7 linked regions of the Homo sapiens genome follow. The protein of the gene in region 7 interacts with the protein of the main gene of each other region in a pairwise test. Each region holds a gene or a part of one and is shown on either strand. Other genes may lie near its edges. The genes, in order: AKAP6, TRIM3, MYO5A, C20orf96, FAM135A, TRIM9 and TRAF3IP1.

Region 1 (3,500 bases), on a different chromosome or scaffold from region 7:
ATATGTTGTGTAATTTAAATGAGAGTTAAACAAAGCAGGTGATAAAAGTAATCAAGTAGTAAACAAAGGGCAAGAGAATTAATATAAACATTGAACCAACAGGATGGTTAATTAGCTTGCTTTGCAAAGAAGATTTGATTTCTCCCCTGAAAGCAATGGTGGTGACAAATAAACCTCACCTACCAAATATCTTCAAGTATAATGTAATATATCCCCCATTGCCTATAAAAGAAATGCCACTGAGTTCCTTTGCATGCCACTGAATTACCATCTACAAGGGCCTTGCTCTGGGTTGTTTTGACAATGGTCCCTTAGTTTTTCTAAGCACTACAATTTCTATTTGAATTGTTCCAGAGTAGGAGGAAGTGGGGAGTCTGAAACTCAAACATCTACAGGGCTCAGGCAGTATCAGTGGGGGCACCAAAAGGGCCATATGGGACTGGCTACATAAGGTCCACTGTAAAATAAAAATGTGGAGCCTCTTATTAAAAAATTATTAAGAATTCCAAGATGGTTACAGCAGAGTATTAAACTAAGTGTGGGCCCTTCTCAGTGCAGGGCCCTATGCAACTACACAGGTTGCACACCCATAAAGCCTGCCCAGCAGCCATACAAAACAAGCTGCAGGCTAGGTTTAGCTCATGTATTAGCCAGTTTGAGACCCCATTCTAAAGGCTCTACTAGCCAGGTGGGGTGATGTGCACCTGCAGTCCTAACCACTTGGGAGGCTGAAGTGGGAGGATCGTTTGAGCCTAGAATTTCAAGGCTGCAGGGAGTAATGATTGCACTACTGCAATCTAGCCTGAACAACAGAGTAAAACCCTGTCTCCAAAAAAAAATCTGAAAATAAAATAAAGGTTCCACATTCTCTCCCTACTTACCCTTGTGACTCAAAGCACACCACTGCAAGATGGCTGGAAGAGTTTGGAGCATGCCCCATGGCTGAAGAACAGAGAAAAATATGGCTGGTGGCTTATGAGGAAAACAAAGTCTGTCCTTTATCTTCACCAAATCTTAAAGCCAACTCAGGAATTCAATTACTGACCGGTATGTGCTCGTGGAGAAGAAACTGTATGCCTTATTAATTCAAACTGCAATAGTCCCCCTCATTATCAGGGAATATGTTCCAAGACCCCCAGTGGATGCCTGAAACCATGGATAGCACCAAACCCTACATATACTATGTTTTTTCCTATACATATATACCTGTGATAAAGTTTAATTTATAGATTAGACACAATAAGAGATTAACAATAACTAATAATAAAACAGAACAATTGTAACAATATGCCAGCATCACTAATCTTGAGCTTTGGAGTCATTATTAAGTAAAATAAAGGTTATTTGAACATGGGCATTATGATAGCGAGATAGTTGATCTGAAAACCAAGACGGCTATTAAGTGACTTAACAAGCTGGTAGCATATACAGCATGGATATGCTGGACAAAGGAATGATACACATCCCAGGCAGGACAGAACAGTAATGGTGAGAGATTTCACTGCACTATGCAGAACAGCGCATAATTTAAAACTTATTGTTTATTTCTGCAATCTTCCATTGAATGTTTTCAGACCACGGATAACCATAACCACAAAAGGCTAAATCACAAATAAGGGCGCGGAAGGGGCTACTGTACCTAAAACTCTGTTGCCATGGCCAAAGTCCTATATGGATTGCTATTCCTCTGAAAAACCACACTCAGGGCCCATCTACAGAGTTCAGTCAATATGATTGTTTCGAGAAATGCTTCCCATTTAAAGCAATACTGTAAGGCACACTAGGGCGATTAGATGAGACTGAAGGTAACTGGTATACCTGTCCTTGTACAACTAAGTGTGTAGTTGGTACCTTGTATGATACATACCTCCATCAGCAGGCTGGCTGGAATGCTCAATTTAGAGGGCTCTCTGGACAATTTTTAAAGGTGATGAATATCTTTTATAAAAACAAAAATATCTCTCCTTAACTGATCTGCCACACACATTTCATATTTCCATATGTCAAGTTTGTCAACTGAGATAGACATGCACTATTTGACTGATTATAATTTTATTTCTCAAAATAGTTTATACCAAAAAAATACTAATTGCCATATTGGTCTTGTCCACATCCAGAAAGATTCTAATCCAAACCCATGCAAGAAAAAAAAAAGTTATTATTTAATGCAGTAAGTTTACCTCCACATATAAACCATATAGCTATATGTACCTATACAAATGTGCACAGATAATGGGCTTCTCTAATAACACATGGAATAAAAAGTAAATAGAAATAGTATTGCAGTATTAGAGGAAATAAATTATTTTACCAATTTACCCATTTTTCCCTTCCCCTCTAGAATGTAGCTGGGGAAGAGATTTGCATCTGTCTTGCTCATTGCTATAGATTCCCTGACAATGCCTGGCATATAGGAGATATTCAATAAATATTTATTGAATTGAATTGAATCCATGCGATCAAAACAAACTGCCATTCATGGGTTCTAGGATTATAAATAGAAGAAAATCAGAGACATGTAGCAAGACCACCAACTTCCCTAAATTCCACTGGCTATTTTATTTCCTAATTGGAACCTAACTCCTGTAGTCATTGTACCTAGCAGCTTTGATGCTTTCTGATCAGCCTCTCATTCCTGTACCTCATGCAGACACAAGCTTGGGCCTCTTTGGAGCAGGTTAGGACAAAGGTTAACTTCTTCCTGGAACCTAGAAAAGGCTAATGAGCCCTGTGGAATAATATTTCTAAGTATTCACCATACAGGAATCAATATCAACATGCTGTCAGTGTGTGCATTAGCCCCACACTCAAACAAAGAACAGCCCTTAGAGCCCAATAATGACGCTGGGCGTGGATAGCTGGGGATGAGCAAGATGATACAGAAATGACTATATCAGCTCTCCTCAAACACAAGGCTTCCAGGTTATTACACAAGACTGTCATTCTTGTACTTTGTCAGAGATAGACAGAGTTTGGTTTCAGCCACTGATACATTCAGCAAAATAAATCCTCTATCTTCTTAACCTAAGAGATAGATTCAGATTACACTTTCCAGACTGTGAGAGAAGTTTCTGCTTCTGTTCTCAACACCAGGTTGAGAACAGAACCTGGTGCAACAGCAGGGAATACAAACATCTTAAAGTTAACAAAGCACCACAAATATAGCTGATAAGACAGGTTTATAACAAAGCTGAATCATTACTGACTCAGGTAAGACCTGCTTTGAGTGCAACTCCATCATGCCCACAATTATTGATGTAACATTTTCCATACAGAGATCCTGCTAGAAAGTTATATCAAGCAAGGGCAGTGGCAAAAGTCTAAGCATCAACTCTTCATTACTTAAATCTCTGGGTACAAAGTAAATATTCACATCTGATCAAGATTCATGCTCATCCTTACAGTGAAATCAACCTTAGTGTTGCAAATGACATTTCATTCTACATATGAAATCTGATTTTCCAATTAGAATGAGGAGGGGTGGGGTACGTGTGATAGAG
Region 2 (3,500 bases), on a different chromosome or scaffold from region 7:
CCAGGCGCAGTGCCTGCTCTGCAAAGCTGCAGCTACTGCCGATGTGTTCCTGACCCTGGCGCAGTGTGTCCAGCTGGCTTTGCAACACCTGATGAGGGGTAGGGGAGGAGTGGGTGAGCAGACTGGCACAGGGGGAGTCTCTGTGATTACTGAAGTTGTAGCACTGTGGCATAAAATACAAGAGGGTGCCTGTGGACAGAGGACACAGATGCCCACAGCACCTACCGAGGGCATGTCAGGAGGCAGAATATCTAGGCTGGGGAATGGGGAGCTGGTGTGGAAGACAGAGGAACAATGGAGGCAATAACACCATCACAATGGACGATGGTAGGAAAGGGTGAACACAAGACACACCTTCTGTTTGGCCCCACAAATGGTCTCCAGGTCGCTGACCAGAGCCTGCTTGCGCTGCTGCAGTGCTTGCTCCAGGTCCTCGAACGCTGCACTGATCTGGGCCAGGGCCTCTGCCTTGCGCTCCTGCAGCTGCTGGCTGATGCCCCCGACTAAGGCAATTGCTGCGGACAGCTGTGGCAATCTGGAGGGGGAATATCTCATTCCAGAGTTGCTGAGGGTGGCTTTGCCGAACTTTCCCTTCTCCCTGGGGAACCTACTGCTGCCCTCATGGAGATCTCCTTCCTGAGACCTCCCTGAGACTTCCATCTCTGCCCTTCCCAGACCCTTTATTCCCCTCCCCGCCCGAGCTAAGACACCATCCCTGTGGCCCCACCAGCCCAGGACCCTGCCCAGTGCCTACCGGCCACGCACAGCCTCGAGCTGGCGCTGCAGGGCCGCCTTGTGCTGCTCCACCACATCCCTCAGCAGCACTGTGCCATGCTCACGATGCTCCCCGGCGCGGCACTCACCACACATGGCCGTCTCACAGGCCTCACAGTAAAACTCCATCGTCTGCGGTACAAGGACTCCAGTCGGGTAATGGCTAGACATCACACTTCTTTGTCCCCTCCCCACCTGCCCTCCCTGCCCCTCACCTTCTAAGTGCACCCCCTACCTGGACCACTAATCCAGAGCAGTACCCTGTCACCCAGCCACTCGGCACCCCCCAATGCCTCTCCTCCTCCTCCCACCCCAAGTCCCGGCCTCACTGGGCCTCGCTTGGGCCCACCTTGCCTTCATGGTTGGGGCAGGAGAGAGGGCGGCCAGCCACTACACTGAGGGGGTGGGGGTCCTCCGGGTCGTGGGCCCCATCAGGTGCCTGCTGCATTGCCTCCATGAGGCTGCTGATGAAGAAGTTGTTCTGCAGTGCCGAGACGCCCTGCTCTGGGAGGATGGACGTCTGCCGGCATACTGGACAGGATAGCGTCAGGCTCTGGGCAGGGATATAGTTTTGGAGACATCTGTCCAGGAAGGAGAGTCAAAGAACAGAGTGGGTGGGGTGGCATAAGTGCACCCTTCCTTATACTTCCCATGGGTGCCAACCCCTTCCCTCACAGGTGTGCCATTACACTTCATTTTAAAACCTCTCTGCTTGACACATCTCATCTGCCAGCAGGTATAATGGCCTTGCCCCTTACAACTGAGTAGGAACACACCCCGACCCCTCTCAGAAGAGCAGACTATCCACATTCCTCACAGTGTGCACACAGGCTCACCTTTCACAGGTGTTTACAAATGCTTCTCATAGGAATGTGCAACTAGGCACCCCCTGCCCAACTTCTTTAACTCATTAACACTACTGTCTACTCTTGCCAAATTTATGCCAAGCCCTGGGGACAAAAAGATAAAGCACAGTGCCTACCCTTAAAATACTTCCCATCTACAGAGAAAAAAGTCACAGGAATAGTACAGAAGTAAATAGCATGATGATTAAGGGAATGGGTCCTGGAGCTAGGCTGCCCAGGCCCAACACCCCGTTGGTCACCTGTTATACTGTATGACCCCTGACAAGTTACATAACTTTGACAAGCCAAGGACTCTTCCTTTGTAAGATGGAGAAGTACAGACTTCACAGAGTGTTAGAGGATTACATGTAAAGTACTTACTTATATTTGAAGAGGATTAAATGTAAAATGCCTGACTCATAATAGCACTATATATGGTAGGCTACTTGTATTACTTATTATTAATATAAGGAATGATAGAAAGTGATAAGGAAATGCATCTGGCTCAAGCAGGTGGAGAGGGTGTCCAGGAAAGTCTTCAGAGAGTTGATGCAAACTAAATCTTCAAGGATAAATAATTGTTAGCCTGACCAAAGAATGGTGCAGGCAGAGGGGGAAGGGTAGTCCAGATACAGAAGGCAGCAAGAAGCAGCATAGTATGAATAAGCAACTGTAAGCAGTTTGATGTGGCTGGCTAGAGACAAAGTCCAAGGCAAGGAATGGTGACAGAAGTCAAGGAGCTTAGAAGTTATCCTGCCAGCAATAGGAAGCTGCAAGAGAGTGGTATAGCCAGGTTTATATTTTACCAAGCTCCTCTTCACCCCCTCTGTGTGGGGAGTGAATTTAAAGGGAATGAGACAGCAGATGGGGTTGGGGGGCGAGGGCAGTGGCATCACCAGCTAGTTACCATTTATTAAGTGCATATGTGCCAGGTGCCATGCTTTCTGATTACGTTTCTGTTAGCAGGAGAAAGGGCAAGTGGCCCAAGGTAACAACAGCAGTAGGTGCTGAAGCCTGTCTTCAAATGCAAAGTATGTGCTTAGCCAGCATACTCTTACAATCATCTAGGTAGGAAGTGAAGAAGACCTGGATTTAGGCAATAGTAATGTAGACTATGAGGTGGAAATAAATTTGAGAAGTGTTTAAGAAGGAGGGAAGGTGGGAGGTGTTGTCTGATTAGATATGGGGAGCAAGAGAGATGATGAGTCTTCGCTGACTTCCAAATTCCTAGCTTTGATAACTGAGTGGATAGTGGTGACATTCACTAAGATGAGAAACATAGAAAGAGGAGTAGCTATAGGAAAGTTCAGCCTTGTCCTGGTTGAATTTACTGTAACAATAAACACCCAGGTTGAGGTCACCAGTAGACAGGAGAATGAAGGTTAGAGACAAGAGATGGGCATGCCATCAACATTTAGATGGCTTCGGTAGCACTGGGAGAGGATGAGATCAGACAAGAAAGCATAGACAGTGATAAGAGAGAGGGACAGAGCACTTAGCAAAAACTGAATGAGGACAACAAAGAAGACCAGGCCGAGAGGCAGGAAGAGCAGCTGTGTTAGGGCAGAAAACTGAGTGGTACATTTCCAGGAGGGAATGAGTAGTCATCAGCGTTAAAAGCAGCTGACGAGTTGGGTAAGGTAAGGACAGGAAAATGTCCACTGAATTTGGCAAATGTGAGGGTACTTTGTCTGTAGGGAAAACAGGGAGGGAGTGGCAGGAGAAGGAAAGCTTGACTGCTGGAAGTTGAGTGAAGGGGAGCTTGAAAGTTCCAATGAGGAGCTGGTTGAGGGGTTGGATGGTGCTAGAAAGAGTTTTTACCTGTTTGGCATGGGAGTTTTGAGCATGTTTATGAATGGAGGAGTCAGGAGAGAAGGAGAG
Region 3 (3,500 bases), on a different chromosome or scaffold from region 7:
AAGGGAACCTTTCATGTGCACATATCCATGTGCACAAACACATGCACATTCAACTTAGGAAAATTAGCTGGGCACGGTGGCTCACATCTGTAATCCCAGCACTTTGGGAGGCCGCCGAGGTGGGTGGATCACTGGAGGCCAGGAGTTCAAGACCAGCCTGGCCAACATAAGGAAACCCCGTCTCTATTGAAAATACAAAAATTAGCCAGGCGTGGTAGCGTGTGCCTGTAATCCCAGCTACTCAGAAGGCTGAGGCAGGACAATCACTTGAACTTGGGAGGCAAAGGCTGCAGTGAGCTGAGACCACATATCTGGGCTCCAGGCTGGGTGACAGAGAGAGACTCCATTTCAAAAAAGAAAAAAATGATCTGGGTGCCAAAATAGAGGGAAAAGGAACTTCACTACAAAAGGGCTTCCGGATTTTAAACTTTACTGAAGGAATAATTCTTAATTGCAAAAATTTACTATGAATCTAAGTAAACTTAATGGTGTCTTTTCTAAAATAAGAAGCGTTAAGAAGCAGTAGCCTTGTGATAGAACAAGTGTGTGTGTCTTGGGTGGGCTTTTGAGAGTGGTAGGTAGCAGTTCGGGTTAAGATAAGCATTCTCCATGTTATCTGAGCCCCAGAGGCAAAAACAGTAAGAAAAGCAGGGCACTGACAACCATCTTGGAGAAAACGTGGGAGAGGGGAGTGGTATGGGTCTGGAGAGCTGGGCCCTTCCTTATTCTGGGTTTCCCACAACAGCAGTGGGCCCTTGGGCTGACCTCCATCTCCCAGAATTCGTCTTCTCACCTGTGGCCCGGCTGCTTCCCTGTTGTGCTCTCTTAGCATTTGGCTTATGCCTCCCTTAGAATGTTTCTGAGATGTCCACTCCCTGACAGCAAGCCCCTTGAGAGCAAAGGCCACGTCTGGTTCATCTTGCTATTTAATTGTGCTAAACACAGATTCCCTAGAACCGGCATGTTTGTTGTTGCTGTTAAATGACTGGGAGATGGGGGTAAGGATTTAGATTGGGGCTTCTTTGAGGCGAACTTCTTATTCAGCCAATAGAAACAGGCAAAGCAATAGAAAAACTGGCTGAAGTTGACCTTGGTATCTGTGTTACCTCCTAAATTTTTGCCAACCTAGGGTGCTTTAATGACGTTTTAAGGGACATCTGAAGAAAACATTGCCATCTCCCATGGCTTCTTCAGCTTTTGATGTCTCAAATAGCTAGTTAACTGTGGCCTATGAAAGCAAAGGGAACACTATGAGCCCACAGAAGGGAAATGAAGAAGTTGTGGAAACATGGAAAATGCATGCATGGGGAAAGAAAGTGTAGCTGGAAGTAGCCTTAAGAGCCTGCTGATAGGCTGGGTGCAGGGGCTCACACCTGTAATCCCAGCACTTTGGGAGGCCGAGGTGAGTGGCTCACAAGGTCAGGAGATTGAGACCATCCTGGCTAACACGGTGAAACCCCGTCTCTACTAAAAATGCAAAAAATTAACTGGGCGTGGTGGCAGGCACCTGTAGTCCCAGCTACACGGGAGGCTGAGGCAGGAGAATGGCGTGAACCCGGGAGGCAGAGCTTGCAGTGAGCTGAGATCGCGCCACTGCACTCCAGCCTGGGCGACAGAGCGAGACTCTGTCTCAAAAAAAAAAAAAAGGGAGCCTGCTGATAATTTGCTGGAAGATAACAATGTTTGGTAACTTAAGACAATTTTTTAAAATTCAATGCATTCAACTGAATTTAAACAGTAAACATTAGGGAAGGAAACCATATACTACTGTTTCAGTCTTGTGGAAACAGTGATTTCGATGTATCCCAGTTAACTATGGCTGGGTTTCTGGGATTCCTCGGCTAATTTTAGCCCTGTATCTTACTACTTTATGCTCCCCAAATGAATACCTGCCCTGAAACATGTGCCACTGGTGGCTACTTATCGATGGGCATGAATGATAGGCAGGCTGCAATGCCCAGTGGGGCCCTGGCCTTACCAATCATTGGCTGAAGGATGTTCTCTAACACCCGCACGAGCTGCTGGTAGATCTGAATGGCCAAGTCACTCAGCACCTGCCGATACTCAGCCAGGTCAAAATTGGTGAGGCAGTGTTCATTCTGGCGAGATGTGTTGTGCTTCATAAAGCCCTAGAGTCATAAGGCAAAGTTAATGATACACATGAAGTAACCTGTCTCTTCAGTTTAACTATCTCCAATTTGATCAGCATCTTCATGCTCTTTTCTGCTCTGTCCAAGGAGCTTCCCCACTAATGCCAGGACTGACATTCTCAAATGCTGATGTGTGTTTGTTTGCTTCCATCATAACCCCCTCCAGTTCTTACTAGCTTTTGAACAATACCTTAACTTGGCAACCTAGCATTTAAGTCTTCCCAATAGCAATGTCAATGAAGCAAATTGGAGGAACTTAACTAAAAAAAAAAAAAAAAAAAAAAAATAGAGTGTTTCACTTCTGAAACAGCAGGTTTACTGTCAAACACTAAATTATCTAAATTATCTCTTAACTTCAGTTCTTTATAGTCCTATTCTTAAAAACTACACCCAAAGGACATATATAATCTTGAAATAGACCGATTTCTACAGAGACTAGTGAATACATACAAAAAGTTCTCTTTACTCTATTTCGTAGTACCCACACCATGGTTTTCAGTCAGAGGTTAGAAGGGAATCTTTGGTGGTATCTGTTAAAATGGAACTGAATGGGCGGCACTTCTTCCAGTCACTTTGCAGTTTAACACGTTGTTTGCCTGATGCTACGTGATAAAGGCAAGTGCTTACTCTGAGGATTCTCCCTACAGCCAAGCATCTGCCTCCTTACCACCTACTTAATGACTGGTCCGAAAGTGGGGACTGATAGGATGCAGTCAACGACCCCTCTGAGGGATTCTGGTCTGTTGGCCCCATCTTCTCAGGGACTAGGCCTTGCTCATCTCTGTGTTTCCCATCATCTGCCTGTCAGTGCTCAGGAAGTGCCGCTGGGCACCTTCTCTGCTGCCCTCCTGGCAAAGGGATGGGAGGCATGGAGGGCAGTTGGCTAGGGTCATGGGCCCTCAGCGGTGCCAGACCCAGGATCCCAGCTCTGCTCCTTGTGGCCAAGAGAACTTGGGTAAATCAATGAGCCCCAGTGAGCCTTGGCTTCCTCATCTGTAAAACTGGACTATAATTCCTACCTCACAGAGATGCTGTAAGAATTAATGATCATAAATAACACCATATACAGTAAGTGCTGTCTGACACATACTAAAGCAGCCCTTAATAGTCATTATTAATATTCTACATAGTTTTGAAATATTTGAAGTCTATCAAACAACTAATGAACATATCCCCACAAACAAAAACAATAGAGTTTTTTTGGACAAATCGAAAGACATGATTTTTGATCACCCTTTTTTTTTTTAGAGTTAAAGGATTTTAAGGTCCTCTTATTGTCCAAGAGTATTAATATTAAAATTTTCTTTTTTTTTTTTAAACTTTAAGTTTTAGGGTACATGTGCACAATGT
Region 4 (3,500 bases), on a different chromosome or scaffold from region 7:
AGCTGGCGCATAAGAGTGGAGATCTGGACAGACTTGATGGAATACTCATGGTCCATGTAAGTGCTCAGGAAGTTCACTTCCTCCTGGGTCTTCTCAATCTTGGCATTCAGCTGCTCTGCCTGCTGCTCAAGATCTGGGGAGGGGTTAGGGAGGTCAGCAGGGACAGGAGGCAAGACCTTCCCTCAAGCACCTGGGCCCCAGGAGGCCCAGGAGGCAAGGTCTCCTTGGCCAGTAACTGGGGTCTGGGCTGAGGTGAGCTCACACAGGGCTGGGAGGTGGTTAAAAGTTAAGGCTCTAGACGGTTTTCCACCCCTGCAGGAGAAGAGGCAATGCTGGGTAGGAAAAAGGAAGGGAATTGGTGCATGATCCCTAGACTAGTCCCCACTCTGCCACTGACTTGCCGGGTGGCTCTCGCCAAGACTGTCCCTCTCCAGACTTCAGTCTCCTCAGAGACACACTCAAGGAAGTGAGACCAGGCAGATGGGGTGACAGTGGCTCCCAAGACACAACCCATGGCAGGATTAAGACAAAGTCTATCCTGTCTTCCTCCAGAGAGACCCCCAATGTCTGGGGTTGACTGATCCACCACCCCTCTGCTCAGCAGGTGTGTAGTCTGCTCAGGGAAAAGGAACCACAGGCCAGGCAGGATGGAAGCCAGGAGACCCAGGTTCTAGCCCAGCCACTGACTCCCAGAAGGACCTTGGCAGGAAACAGAGCCAGGCTAGGATTGGATTCTGGCTCCTAGCTATATAACCTTCCACAAGCTACTGCACCTCTCTTAGCCTCGGTTTCCTCATCTGTAAAATGGGAGGACAGCTTCCCTGCCTCCAAGTAGTTGCAATGACTGAGTGTGTGCCTGTAACAATGCAGACATTGGTAGAGACCCAGATACGGGGCCTGGAAAGAGCTAAGTGTTGGGTAACTATGCTATTCGCTCTGTATCTTAGCATTCCCATCTGCCAAGAAGAGAGCCAATGGGGCTGAGGGTTTCTGAATGGCAAGTACAAGGTGAATGCTCTGCTGCTGACCTCCCCAAGGTGCCAGGGGGGAGGGTCAAGGAATTTGCCAGGGATTCTTACAGCTCATCTTGCATTTCTTCTTTTCTTCCCACTCCTGAAGCTCAGATTTCAATTGCTGCAGCCTCTTCTTGTTTGAGTACTCCAAGATGTCGATGATGGTCTGCGGGAGGGGTGGAGTCAACTCACCCACAGGCTCTGCTGGCTCTCAGAGGCGGCCACCCAGCACTTCCTCAGAGGAGTCCCCAGTCCCAACCTCACTCCCAGAAACCTGACCAGAGGCTAATCGGGACAGTAACAGTGTCCACCCATAGGGTTGTTGTAAGGACTATATAAAGACATACAGATCGCTTGCTATTACACGTAGAGGTGTTTGCAAATGCTGTTGGTGGTAGCAGCGACCTCTGTCGCACCGGTACAGTATGTGCCCGGTGAACCCCCTCTGGGACGGGTGCTATGGTGCCGCATTTCACAGAGCTCGGGGAGGCAAAGTTAACTAAAAGTCTCCCGGCCAGTGAGTGCTGGCGCGCTGGGATGAAACCCATCTCGGTCCTCTTGCAAAGCCCAGGTGAGGGGAGTGAAGGGTGAAGAAATGCGTCTTCCAGGTGGAGGAAGCACCACGTGCAGTGGGCGGGGAAAGGCAGGAGAGGGCGCGCGAGTGCGCGGAGGGAGGGCGGGACGGAGGGAGGGAGGGCGGGACGGAGGGAGGGAGGGAGGGACGGAGGGCGGGACGGCGGGAGGGCGGGACGGAGGGACGGAGGGAGGGCGGGACGGAGGGCGGGAGGGCGGGACGGAGGGAGGGAGGGAGGGAGGGACGGAGGGCGGGACGGAGGGACGGAGGGAGGGAGGGAGGGACGGAGGTTGGGACGGAGGGACGGAGGGCGGGCGGATGCCGCGGGTCTCACCGCCAGGGTGTCCTGCTGCTGCAGCAGGGCCCGCACGTGCAGGGTCGTGCTGTTCTCCATCTCCTGGATGGTCTCGATCAGCTCCCGGTTGAGCTTGCTGAGGAAGTTCTCACGGCTTCGGAGCTCTCGCAGAGCGGCCCTCCCGCTCCTGAGCGAGGTCTGCGGGCGGAGGGAAGAGCAGAGAGGCGGCGCTGCGCCCTGCCCGGCCTGAGCCCCCGAAAGCCCGTGGACCCGCCGCCCCGGCCCCGCCAGACGCCCGCCCCCGTGCGGCCTCCTGCTGGTAAACGCGGCCCAAGCTGGGCGGTTCCCCATTGTCTGCGCCGCCCGGGAGCTCCGGGACTCTCATCCGTTCGGAAACGCACGTGTACCCATCATCTCACATCCCTGAGGTGCGGGTGCATCTACAGTTGGTGGCGTGTCACCAACTAATCAACAAATATATTATTAGTGGGTAAATAAAGATGTGCCTTCATATCAATGGCTTCTCAGAATCAATGAAATATAGAAATAATAGTAAGGGCCGGGCGGGGTGGCTCACGTCTATAATCCCAGCACTTTGGGAGGCCAAGGTGGGCCGATCACGAGGTCAAGAGTTCGAGACCAGCCTGACCAACATGGTGAAACCCCGTCTCCACTAAAAATACAAAAATTAGCCGAGCGTGGTGGCGCGTGCCTGTAATGCCAGCTACTGGGGAGGCTGAGGCAGGAGAATCGCTTGAACCTGGGAGGCGGAGGTTGCAGTGAGCGAGATGGCGCCACTGCTCTCCAGCCTGGGCGACAGAGGAAGATTCCTGTCCCAATAATAATAATAATAATAAACGCCCCAGGTAGGTTAAGAAGGTGGCAGAGCGACCGCCATGTCTGGAGGAGAAGCAGGGGAGGCAAAATGGATGATAAACGTCAGCATTTCCGGGCAGGCCGCGGAGTCAATGAGTACTCTCATTTCACACAACAGCCCCCAGTGGAACAAGGAGGGTCTGAGGGTTAAGTGACTCGCCTAAGGTTACACCCAGCAGGTGCATAAAACCTACAGTAACAACAACAACAACAATTGTACTTCCCTAAGGTTACACCCAGCAGGTGCATAAAACCTACAGTAACAATAACAACAACAATTGTACTCCCCTAAGGTTACACCCAGCAGGTGCATAAAACCTACAGTAACAATAACAACAACAATTGTACTCCCCTAAGGTTACACCCAGCAGGTGCATAAAACCTACAGTAACAATAACAACAACAATTGCTGAGGGCCCTCTACATGCCAGGCCAGGTGCTGTGCCTTGCTCTGCAGGTGGCACATGGTATCTGTTCACCCTCCAACAGCTTTATGTTTACTAACTCTATTTTGCTGATAAATGGAGGCTCAGAGAGTTTAATGACTTGCCCAGTGTCACACAGTCAAGAAGTGGCAGGGCTGGAACTGGAAAGCCAGACTTCTGAATCCCAATGTCTGTCTTTCCGTTATGCTAAAACAAGAACTGAGTAGCCTTAAAACTGCAAGGCATGGCTGAACCACGTAGTGACTAAGACTTGGATGTTGAACCTAGACACACCTTGGTTCAAATCCCAGCTCAGC
Region 5 (3,500 bases), on a different chromosome or scaffold from region 7:
ATTAGGAAAAAAATATATTGAGTTGCTCTGGGTTACATCCATAGATGTCACATACCATCTAAACCGTGCACACAGACAATCAGATGTACTCCATCTTCAGAACCATCCTCTTCTTCTACACTAAAATAAGGTACTGAGGATGCCAGCAGAGGAACTTCACTGTACATGAACCCAGGAAGTTTTAGTAGCTTCAGTTCTTCTTTTGCCTGAAGGAAGCTGAAGCAAAATACAAAAGATACTCTTTACTAAGGATCATATTCAGTTGTTAGAACCCTCCTGAATTTAGAGAATTGTAGAAGTGGAAACCCAACAATATTTGGTTTTAAAACCATGAAAATATGTGGCATCACCTAAGTGATTTAGAAATCAGAGAGTAATTTTCTTTATTATTTGTAGTACATATTCTATCAAATACAATGAACACTTTAAACCTGAAATCACTTGAAAATATTCTTTTAAACTTGAAATCAACTCTAAGAAAACATTCTGAGTGAAGTTATACTTTCTGCAAAATTTAACACTGTATGCACAGAAAAGCTGGGAGAGGGACTGGAGAGGTGATAATCTGATGTTTATCCTGTAATGAAATCTTATCCCCTTTGCTCCTTTTTAATCTTGCATAAATGGAAGGGAAGGAGTGATTTACAAAATGTAACAGTGAGAATGGAGTTACAGTATTTAGCAGATTAGGTTATTTGTATTTTTCTCTAAAAATACCAATAAGAAGGAGCAGAACGAAGAGGGGAATGTGACTGCATACAATTAGTGGTATATACTCGTTTGCAATGACGGACAATCTAACCAATTTGGGGATTGCAAACATCAAAAATTATTAACTATTTAACATACATCATTTGGACTGATAAAGTGAAGCTGGAAGAGGAACCTGATGAACACTAAACTGAGTAGGATAAGCTGGCCAAAAATATATAAAGTCTATATTAGAGATCATTGCTTTCTGATGACTCAGACAATCTGAAGTAACCAGACGGTGATATAAACTTTATTTTCCCTGCATATCACAATTTTTTAATTGGCTATTGTTACCTCAGTGGTTTCACTAGCTTTAGACACTATGTATCTTAATTTCTGTGTATAAATCAGAATAATCTGGGAACTTTAAAAATCTCTCTCTATATATATACATGCCAAGACCTCTTACCCCAAATATTATGACTCAGTCTGGCTGAGGCAATAGAATATTTTAAGAACCAGTGCACGCTGGTAAACCTGTATCATCGCCAGATTTTTCTGGATATTTTACTGGTACATGAAATCTCAATTCTGGAAACCAATGACTTAGCTGAAGGCAATCAGCATCTGGTAAGTTCAAGAAGTTTCCACTACCCTGTTACTCATTTAACTAATATTATCCTTATTTCCTAGATAAACTCATAAAACTTGGCTTTTGTCTGGAAGTTAATGGAGGAGAAATGAGGGACTGATGAAAAAAGGGTTTTAAGCTCAGTTATTCCATACTTCTAACACAAAACTACCATTGGAAAATCTGTATCAGGAATGTCTATCCTATAGAACAGCAGAACAGCACGATCATTCAGCAACTATAGGTCTGTCTGGCCAAGGGTATATTATGTTCATTTCTCCATTTCGGATAGTCATCAAAGAAGCACTTTTGTATTACAGAAACCAGACAACAAAATAGACACTCAATCCTTTAGCACTATCTATGATTTTATATATATATGTGTGTGTGTGTGTGTGTGTGTGTGTGTGTGTGTGTATGTGTGTGTGTGTGTATATATATATGTATATATTTAGCAGCAGGTACTATTACGTTCCATTACTTACGCTTGTATTTGAGGTTTTGGTGAACTTTCATACCAGGAAATCGAAGAAGTGAAGTTGTAAGAAGTACTGCTTGGCTGCTTTGTAATGGCATCAAATTTACTTTTGGAAGAATATTTAACATTACAAGGAGACTCTCGTGGTGCAGACGGGAAGGACAAACAACCAGAAGTACAGACAGTAGGCATGTTTATACCATCTCTCAGATAGTCACTGTTTATTTTTTCAGATTTTGTAAGTCTTTCTTCCATTAGTTCATCTCTGCTTGTATAGTGAGCATTTATTGTTCCATCCAAAGCTGAATAATCTGTTTCTTCATAGTACCCATTTTGAACCATTTGTTGATCCTGCTCTTCCTCCTCATCCTCTTTATCCTGTTCCTGCTGAAGATTACTAATTTCTTTTTCAGAAGTTTCCTTCTGAGGGCTAAGTGCATTGCTGTAGCTAACAGCACATGTGTCAGAAATATCCGTACTGCTTTGAGAACCAAAATAATTTTCCACAAGCCCTTGCTTTACTATATCAGTACTGGCTGAAAAAGGATCACTTGTACCCAGATGAGTTTCACTTTCAACTGTAGGGATTTCTGAATACATCTGTGTGAGATTTAATACATCACTATTTTTTTTCATAGTTCTATCTTCACTAACATCTGTATTACTAGAAATGGAACCTGAAATGACACAAGGAGTGCCTAAACAAATCAGTTTTGAATTTAATGTAATTGCTGTCCCTGTAGAGTTATTAGATTTATCAGGACTCTGGAAGCCTTTACACATAGTATCCAAGTTAGGTTTGGAGCTGCAACTACTTTTCACATCACTGGAAGTCTCTTCATCTGAAAAAACAAATTGTAAAGGGTCTTTAATGCTTGAATTTAAGGAATGTATTGCTACAGTTTCATTGTCCAAGTTCCCTGAAAATACAACACTCTGCTGTTGCAAAGTGATACTTGACTTTTTAGTATCATCACATTTTGGCAAATCAGTCGTTCCTAGATTTAATACAGTTTTGCTATCATTTAGATGGCATTCAGGTACAACAGATTTCTTAGAATTTTCATCAGGTGACAGTTCATCATCGGAGGGTAGAGAGTTTATGGATGTCAAAGATGACTGTATTTCACTTATAGCACTTGTACTCTCAGTACAATGATTTCCTAATGAAAATTTTACATTATAATCAGGTTTCATCAAAAGCTGAGGAAATAATCTTTCACTATTGCAAGGACCTTGCCCTTGCACAGTTTCAAAGACTAAATCAGTGTTTGGATGTGTCGCAAAAGAACTCGGTTCACTTTCAACACCTGAATCTGAAAATCTAGATGAGGCATATGTGGCACTAATATCTGGTAACTTAATTGTATCTCCACTTACTACAACATGATATTCTTTTGTAGAAGGGGCAGGTAGATTACTTCGTAATTTAGTTAATGATTCTCCAATAGAAAGACACTTTGCTTCTTGCAAAGCTTCCTTTTCAAATGTTATTTCTATAGATTTAGATTTACCATTAGATTCTAAGGACTCAAAGTTGGGTAGTAAATTATCCACAAGTATTTCCTCTTGTCGAAGCTCTGTCCAAGGTCCTAGTTTGACAGTTATATTCTCTCCACTGAAAGGATCTTTATTACTGGGCTTTATTTCAATTGTTCTAACTCCCAAAGATGGGGTTGTTTGATGATCATGGCAATC
Region 6 (3,500 bases), on a different chromosome or scaffold from region 7:
CATTTTGAAAGAGCAGAGGGGCAGTTTTTTACCCAACAAACTAAATAATATAAAAAGGGCTTTGTTTTTTCATGGATCAGGCCTCTGGTATCTATATTCAACTGGTGCTTTTTAAGCGTATACAAGTAATTTTTATCAACCTGGTTGTTGTTTCATAGCGTTGATGTGTAGTATCTCTTTATAGGATGCAATTTTGAGACACAATCTGCACCTTACTCTCAATTAGGCAAGTATACCTATTGTAATTATCTTTTACTTACGTGATTGGTGTGCTCAATTTCCTTCACAAAATAAATGGCGGCAACTTGTCTTATGTCAATAAAATTGTCTAATTGTCATTCTAACCCTATTATAGCAGTTTCTCAAACTCTTAAAAAATGGAAAAGATGCCTGTAGTGTTTAATGTTATGCCTCAAACCTTACTTTTCCCCCAGTTTTCTTTTACATCAGTGCAAAGCACTCTTTATGAGCACTAAATGTGGGTAAAGGTACAAGTCAGAGAGCACCTGTTTAGTATATGTGGCATTTTAAATTGAGTCCTTTTGGGGTACTAGTCTATCAAGAGAGACACATTTTCTTATCCATGTCAATTTTGCTTCCTATCTCTCTCCCCCATGCCTTTCACTTGGAATGACAACAGTTGACATTAAAAAGCTGTTGGCAGGTATGGAATAACCTTATTCTGTTACCAAATAGCAAAGACCAAAGTGCATGTGAGGTGTCTCACAGGTTTAATAAATCAGCAATTACATCTCTCGAGTGTGATATTTATAGGTGGCATTTAGAACTTGGGGCGTAACAATGCGTACAAAGACATCATTCTATCTGCACCTAATGTCCGAAATTCCTACTGCTCCAGCAAAATTTCTGACGTGTTAGTTTCAGGAGTAGCACGCAAACTGTGTTTTTTAAGTTATGCAGACAGCAACCTGTCCTACATGCAAGTCACAATCACTCATGAAAATTAGTTTATGTTGCTTATAGCTTCGCAGCTTGTGAGCTTTCACTAGAGCCGAGGAAGACTTCAAAGCGACTAGATGTTAGCACTTCTGCCGAAGGGATATTTCCTGATTTCACTCCATGTGTTTTATCCCTCCTCCATCTAGGACTCTAGCTCCTAGCCTCCCCGCCTCAGGGGTTACACAGGCATCTTAGCGCATCCCCTCTCCCTTTATGTCTCTGGTGCACTGTTCTGCCAGTCACCAGGTGAAGGGACTTGCACCTTCCAAAATCGATGCCACTTCACTCCCGGATCACCTGGTTGGGAGTGCAGTCTGAGCCAGGTAACCCCTGCTGAATCGGTCGTGTGTCCTCCGTCTGCTTCTGGTGCAGAGAGTACCAACTCCCAGGACGTGCCCCTGTCTGCCCTGGCCCTGGACGCCTCCTTCCTGCATGGCAGCATGAAAACGCTACACAACGCTCCTCACCCGCCCAGGAGTATGTTATGGTGCTGAGCTTGTTGGGTCTGTCTTAATAACCTGATTCCCTTCTGTTGTTCCCAGTGGCCTGGTTTGCTTTCGACCCTGGCTCGGCGCACTCGGACATCATCCTCTCCAATGACAACCTGACAGTGACCTGTAGTAGCTATGATGACCGGGTGGTGCTAGGGAAGACTGGCTTCTCCAAGGGCATCCACTACTGGGAGCTCACGGTAGATCGCTATGACAACCACCCTGATCCTGCCTTTGGTGTGGCTCGCATGGACGTGATGAAGGATGTGATGTTAGGAAAAGACGACAAAGCTTGGGCAATGTATGTGGACAATAACCGGAGCTGGTTCATGCACAACAACTCGCACACCAACAGGTACCCTGCAGCCCCCAAACCAAGCCTTCTTCACGTTGGCTTCTGATCAGGAGTGAGAGCCCCAGTTCAAAAACCTATTACATAGACCACATTCAGGAAATCAAACAGGTGGTCTACATTAAGTAGCACAGGCAATCTATGAGCCTCAGCTGAGTCCATGCTGGTGGTTTACTTTCTATATAATGATAGAGACTTGAGTACTTTCCTACTCCCTTCATTGCTGTATTTCACCCATGGCTGGAAACTAAGAATCCCAATGGATATCCATTATAAGAAAACAATCCAGGATGCTGAAACACCCAGACCTACAACTTAACAGAAAAGCACTTTTGGGCAAGTTACTTCGTTTTTTGAACCTCAGTTTCCAAATCCATCAAATTAGTACAATAAAATTTTTCCTTGTGGGAATCTTCTGAAGATTAAATGAAATATGTGAAAATGCCTTACATTGGAAGCACCTGAAAATAGTAGCCATTCTTCTTATTACGATTCATTAAACTAAAGCTTATGGATGCCAATTTGAATGGCTTTCTACTTATAGAGAACTCTCTTATTACTGTATTAATCCAGAGCAGCCAGTTTGCTAAGGAAAGGAAATACAGTAATCTCCTTGAGGTTTTCTTCTACCACCAAAATATAGATCATTATAATTGAACACATACTATAATGGATTTCCTTTCTCATTTGATTGTGTTCCTCAAATGTATTTTTCACAAATTTCCTAGGCAGAGAAATTTCTACTGTGGACCCTGGTCCACCTTATGCTCCAAGATTTCCCCAGGATACATTCTCATTAGTGTCTCTGAAAAAAAAAAAAAATACAGTAGTGTTCAACCAGATCAAAGGGAAAGCAAGTCAGACATTGGTAGGATAATTGGACCCCACTGTTTTATCTTTTTCTGTATGCTCATCACTGACCCTTCTCCAGCCTGTAGACTCCTAAAGCCTCCTTTTCCCTTGGATAGCTTCTATAGCATTCAAGTGTGTATTATTCGCTGTCACTTGAAGTGAACACACACACCATTTCACCATGAAAGCAAATCCTACTGGATGTAGATAAGTGGTTATCTTCAGTGATCGGCATTTTGTGGAACTCTCTGTCAATAGATTCTCAGTGCTATCACCCAAATGCCACACTTACTTTTTCCCTTTTAGCGTCTTTGTTTTGAAGTGCAGGAGTGAATAATGACATAACCATCACACTATGCAGAGAAACACATTCTTAATGCTGAACACATCTGCTTGCATGCAACCTGCATGTCACTTGTGCTTTCATTGTTAAACCTGTGAAGTAGCAAGAGGCAATTTGTAAACCTGTCTTTTAATGACTATGTACAGTCTGTATCCTGCATGCAAGAGGAAATGAATGACACAAATTCCTGTGCTCTGCTGAGATGAGGACGAAGTTCAATATTGCTAGATCTCAAAAAAATGGGAAAGACAAATCTGATCGTCCATTTTTAATGGCATTTTGTGAAACCATCAATTGAAGCATAAGACACAATTCTTTGTAAAATGGCATTTGTATGCAGGTTCTTTAAAATCACTACATCTCAGAGTATAATTATTTCACTGTACAGAGAAGAAGCCTCTTCTTCAGTGCTGTCATTTCACAGACAGCCTCCAAGTTCTTAATTCAAATGCAACAAGCCAAAAAACTGCTATCCTTCTGGAATGAGTTTTTCTGTTTAATG
Region 7 (3,500 bases):
ATATACTTTATATTCTGGAAAAAAATCCTGAAATGTATTGTTTTCAAACTTAAAACATATAAATTAAATTTCAAATTAAATTAGGGTAGTTGGCCAGGCGCAGTAACTCACACCTGTAATCCCAGAACTTTGGGAGGCCGAGGCAGGTGGATCACCTGAGGTCAGGAGTTCGAGACCAGCTTGACCAACATGGAGAAACCCCGTCTCTACTAAAAATACAAAATTAGCCGGGCGTGGTGGTGCATGCCTGTAATCCCAGCTACTCAGGAGGCTGAGGCAGGAGAATTGCTTGAACCCGGGAGGCAGAGGTTGCGGTGAACCGAGATCATGCCATTGCACTCCAGCCTGGGCAACAAGAGTGAAACTCCATCTCAAAAAATAAATAAATAAATAAATACATTAGGGTAGTTATGATCTTTTTCCATAAAATAAGTTACTTTCACTAATGCACTTTATAAAGCATGAATCTGAGAGTCCACATTCACATTCACACACATGCATACAATTGATATGACACACAGGTATCTAAGGCCATTCCTCACCTGCATCACTGGTGGAGTCACCTAAAGAAAAAGCACATCAGAAAATTAGCTTTCGTGTAGTCAACCTCAATACATTAAATGATGAGAACAGAATTGGAGAAAAAACACACTGTACATAATTTTGGATGTCTGCTAAGAAAAAAAGATCATTTCCTCATAGCCGCTTTTCTAATGTCCCTATTGCCATTTTGTTTTATTTTCAAAGATAGAAAAACAAAGAGCAAACAAACTGTGCATCATAAAATGGTACTAAATAGAAACAGGACACAGGGATGTGGAGAAAGCACATCGGAGAGGAAGTTAACAAGTTCATGAGACAAGAATCGACAAAGCCAGAGCCACAGAAAAAGTGCATCCAAATGTGAGGGAACGATGCAACAGTCTGAACCCGGCCAACCAAATCCCGGGCCGTTCCAAAGACTGGGAGACAGTCAACAACAGCCCATCTTATAGACATGATTGGTAAGCATTTTTCCATCAGCTCCTGAAAGCAGAAGAAAATCTTCCAGCTCAACAGAGGCCCACCTCTGCACCTTCACCCAGGATCCTTTTTCTTCAAGTGTTGTCTTGAGGACAAATGTGACCTAAACGGTCAAAGTAAATGAGCAGTGGCACCACAGGGGTGGGGTGATTCAAAACCACAGGTGGGAAATCTCTGTTTCACACTCTTAAGATGCACGAACGCATTTGCAGAAGAGCAGAAAGCGCATGGATTCACATGACAGCCCAGCACACTATACGGCAGAGAGGAGGCAGCAGGGCCTGATGCAGCGCCTCGTTTAACACGGCCCCGCCTCAGACAGGAACAGTTCATGCAGCCTCGAGAAATCAGCCTGGGTTATTGTGAGGGTCCACACCGAGCAGAGTGAGGAGCACTCTACAGACACCTCTAGCTCGTTTATTCACAGGAGGACTTTCTGTGAGCATAACAGCCACGAGCTCATAAATGCTGCCTTAAGAGGGTGGCTCTGGCAGGGAGAGAGGGGGCCAAGCTTGTGGATCAAGGGGAACCGGGAGGCTCTAGAGGACTCTATTAGTATGGGCCTGAGAACCTCCAGAGGTCACACCCCACAAAGTGCCACAGCACAGGGGGTAGCCTGGCACCCACCAGGGCCTAGGGGACTGGAGGGCACAGTGGTTAGCAGGGGGCTGGAGAATGTGGTTCCAGATAGTGCCACTACAAGGGCAGTTTCAGAGACCCCAGCACTTTGGGCCAATGGGGGCAGAGGACTCAGCTCAACCCTGGGATGGGACTGCTGGGGACCAAGAGCAGGTGGCAGAAGATCTTTTCCTCATGGCTGTGCGGCCTGGAGCGTGTGCTTAGCAGAAACCAGCACTGAGAGTCCTCGTGCGACCTGGGGGCAGGCAGCAGACACAGTTTCAAATCCCCGGCTCTTTCTTCAAAACACCAGGGTGTTAGGAACAGACCCTGGATTAACACAGCACTCAAAAAGGTGCCTGAGAGGTGCAGTTATTCAACCACAAGGCCGATACCCAGAAGGAAAGTCAGCACAGTGAACTCTCTACCTTTCAATGGATACTTCCAGTCCCCGTTACCCAGAACCCAAGGCACCTGCCACATGGCCCACACCATCCTCCCCGACGCCTGTGCTTCCACAGCGCCAGTGCTCTGCCAGCTCCTGCACTCACAATCTCGTCCTAGGTGACCCAGTCCCCACCCAGGCTCCTGCCATCACCCAGCGCCAGCAACTCTCACAGCTCCTCTCTAGCCTGGGCCTTCCCTCTACGCTCCAGGCCAGCTCCCCCAGCACGTGCCAGCAGCCCTGGAATCCTACCACTTCTCCCCTCCCAGGGCGCCTCCACAGTCCAGGCCTCTCTCTCTTCTCTGCACAATCTTTAACCCTCCCTAATTAACATGGCCACTCTTTAAAATCTAAATATCATTATACTGCTCCTCCTAAAGATATAATTAGCCTCCCGCTGCTCTTCCAATAAAGGCTAAACTCCATAAGCTGGCACAGGGACCTGGCTCTGGCCCTTCCTCTGGGCTGAGCCAGCCCTGCTGCAGTCGCATCCCAGCCGGGATCTTGGTTTATACAGCCCCTTCTGCCCTGCAGGCTTTCTGGGCCACCCTCACCAACCAAGGCCCCTCCCGTCCCAGACTGCCACCCCATCAAACGATTTCGGTTGATCTTCGAGCCTCATCTGCACCAGGAAGGCAGGAGGCCAGCCTGACTTCACTGGCTCATGCGCTCCCAGCCTCAGGGCTGACATGCAGTAGGCCTTCAACAGATAATTTTCTGTTTGAACAAATCAACAAACATCAGCCCTCCCCTGGCCACACCCCACCCTGCCGCTGCCACCTGCACAAGCCTTGGTTACCTGGGCACTGGTACCCTTGCAGGCCTGTTAGGAGCTCCAAGGCCTCAAAACACAAACATTGAATGGCTATTTTACCAAAGTTTTTTTAAAGGCTGAGAAAATTTATGGTGAAAGTAAAATCCCACTGAGGTATAATTCAACACTCAAAGAAAATGACAGACAGAAAAATCATGGTGGCCACAGCACTGTGACCATGAAGTCTGGGGGGTACACCTCTTGACTGGTGGGGCTCTCCAAGTAGTGACCCCGAAACTTTTCAGGGACCACTCATGACACCCCCCAAGTGATGAAACATGCCACCTCCTCTCACTTACAGAGCACGGGGGAGCACACGAGTGGGTCCCATGCTATCAAGAAACCACCATGTTCGATTCTAGTTTATGCAAAAAGGCAGAAGTGAATCACTGTGAATCACTTGCCACGTTCAGACCCAAGAGGAAAACCTCGGGCTCTGGGCTGCGGCCCTTTGAGAAGAAGGTTCTGGAGGGCTCACTCTGCTCTCGCCAGGAAAGGGCGAAACTGGACCATTCTTACCTTTCTGCTTCTCTGTGGGGTTGGGCTGAATATTCTCACACCGCAGACTAGCTGAATTATCATCTGAAATACTAGTTGAGT

Evidence for each region.
Region 1: the proteins of TRAF3IP1 (region 7) and AKAP6 interact in a two-hybrid assay, tested with the Homo sapiens proteins (one large-scale study listed by IntAct).
Region 2: the proteins of TRAF3IP1 (region 7) and TRIM3 interact in a two-hybrid assay, tested with the Homo sapiens proteins (one large-scale study listed by IntAct).
Region 3: the proteins of TRAF3IP1 (region 7) and MYO5A interact in a two-hybrid assay, tested with the Homo sapiens proteins (one large-scale study listed by IntAct).
Region 4: the proteins of TRAF3IP1 (region 7) and C20orf96 interact in a two-hybrid assay, tested with the Homo sapiens proteins (one large-scale study listed by IntAct).
Region 5: the proteins of TRAF3IP1 (region 7) and FAM135A interact in a two-hybrid assay, tested with the Homo sapiens proteins (one large-scale study listed by IntAct).
Region 6: the proteins of TRAF3IP1 (region 7) and TRIM9 interact in a two-hybrid assay, tested with the Homo sapiens proteins (one large-scale study listed by IntAct).

What each region holds. Positions count from the first base shown.
Region 1 is NC_000014.9:32,332,298-32,335,797, reverse strand, and holds part of AKAP6 (A-kinase anchor protein 6), read right to left. Parts: intron 1-3,500. UniProt on the Homo sapiens protein: Binds to type II regulatory subunits of protein kinase A and anchors/targets them to the nuclear membrane or sarcoplasmic reticulum. May act as an adapter for assembling multiprotein complexes.
Region 2 is NC_000011.10:6,456,942-6,460,441, forward strand, and holds part of TRIM3 (tripartite motif-containing protein 3), read right to left. Parts: intron 1,356-3,500; coding exon 1,124-1,355; intron 907-1,123; coding exon 755-906; intron 536-754; coding exon 355-535; intron 89-354; coding exon 1-88.
Region 3 is NC_000015.10:52,319,381-52,322,880, forward strand, and holds part of MYO5A (unconventional myosin-Va), read right to left. Parts: intron 2,130-3,500; coding exon 1,979-2,129; intron 1-1,978. UniProt on the Homo sapiens protein: Processive actin-based motor that can move in large steps approximating the 36-nm pseudo-repeat of the actin filament. Can hydrolyze ATP in the presence of actin, which is essential for its function as a motor protein. Involved in melanosome transport.
Region 4 is NC_000020.11:277,251-280,750, forward strand, and holds part of C20orf96 (uncharacterized protein C20orf96), read right to left. Parts: intron 2,081-3,500; coding exon 1,922-2,080; intron 1,180-1,921; coding exon 1,080-1,179; intron 134-1,079; coding exon 1-133.
Region 5 is NC_000006.12:70,525,008-70,528,507, reverse strand, and holds part of FAM135A (protein FAM135A), read right to left. Parts: coding exon 1,810-3,500; intron 217-1,809; coding exon 56-216; intron 1-55.
Region 6 is NC_000014.9:50,980,106-50,983,605, reverse strand, and holds part of TRIM9 (E3 ubiquitin-protein ligase TRIM9), read left to right. Parts: exon of another isoform or gene 1-184; coding exon 185-226; exon of another isoform or gene 227-324; intron 325-640; coding exon 641-664; intron 665-1,106; exon of another isoform or gene 1,107-1,283; intron 1,284-1,502; coding exon 1,503-1,806; intron 1,807-3,500. UniProt on the Homo sapiens protein: E3 ubiquitin-protein ligase which ubiquitinates itself in cooperation with an E2 enzyme UBE2D2/UBC4 and serves as a targeting signal for proteasomal degradation.
Region 7 is NC_000002.12:238,344,518-238,348,017, reverse strand, and holds part of TRAF3IP1 (TRAF3-interacting protein 1), read right to left. Parts: coding exon 3,420-3,500; intron 564-3,419; coding exon 543-563; intron 1-542.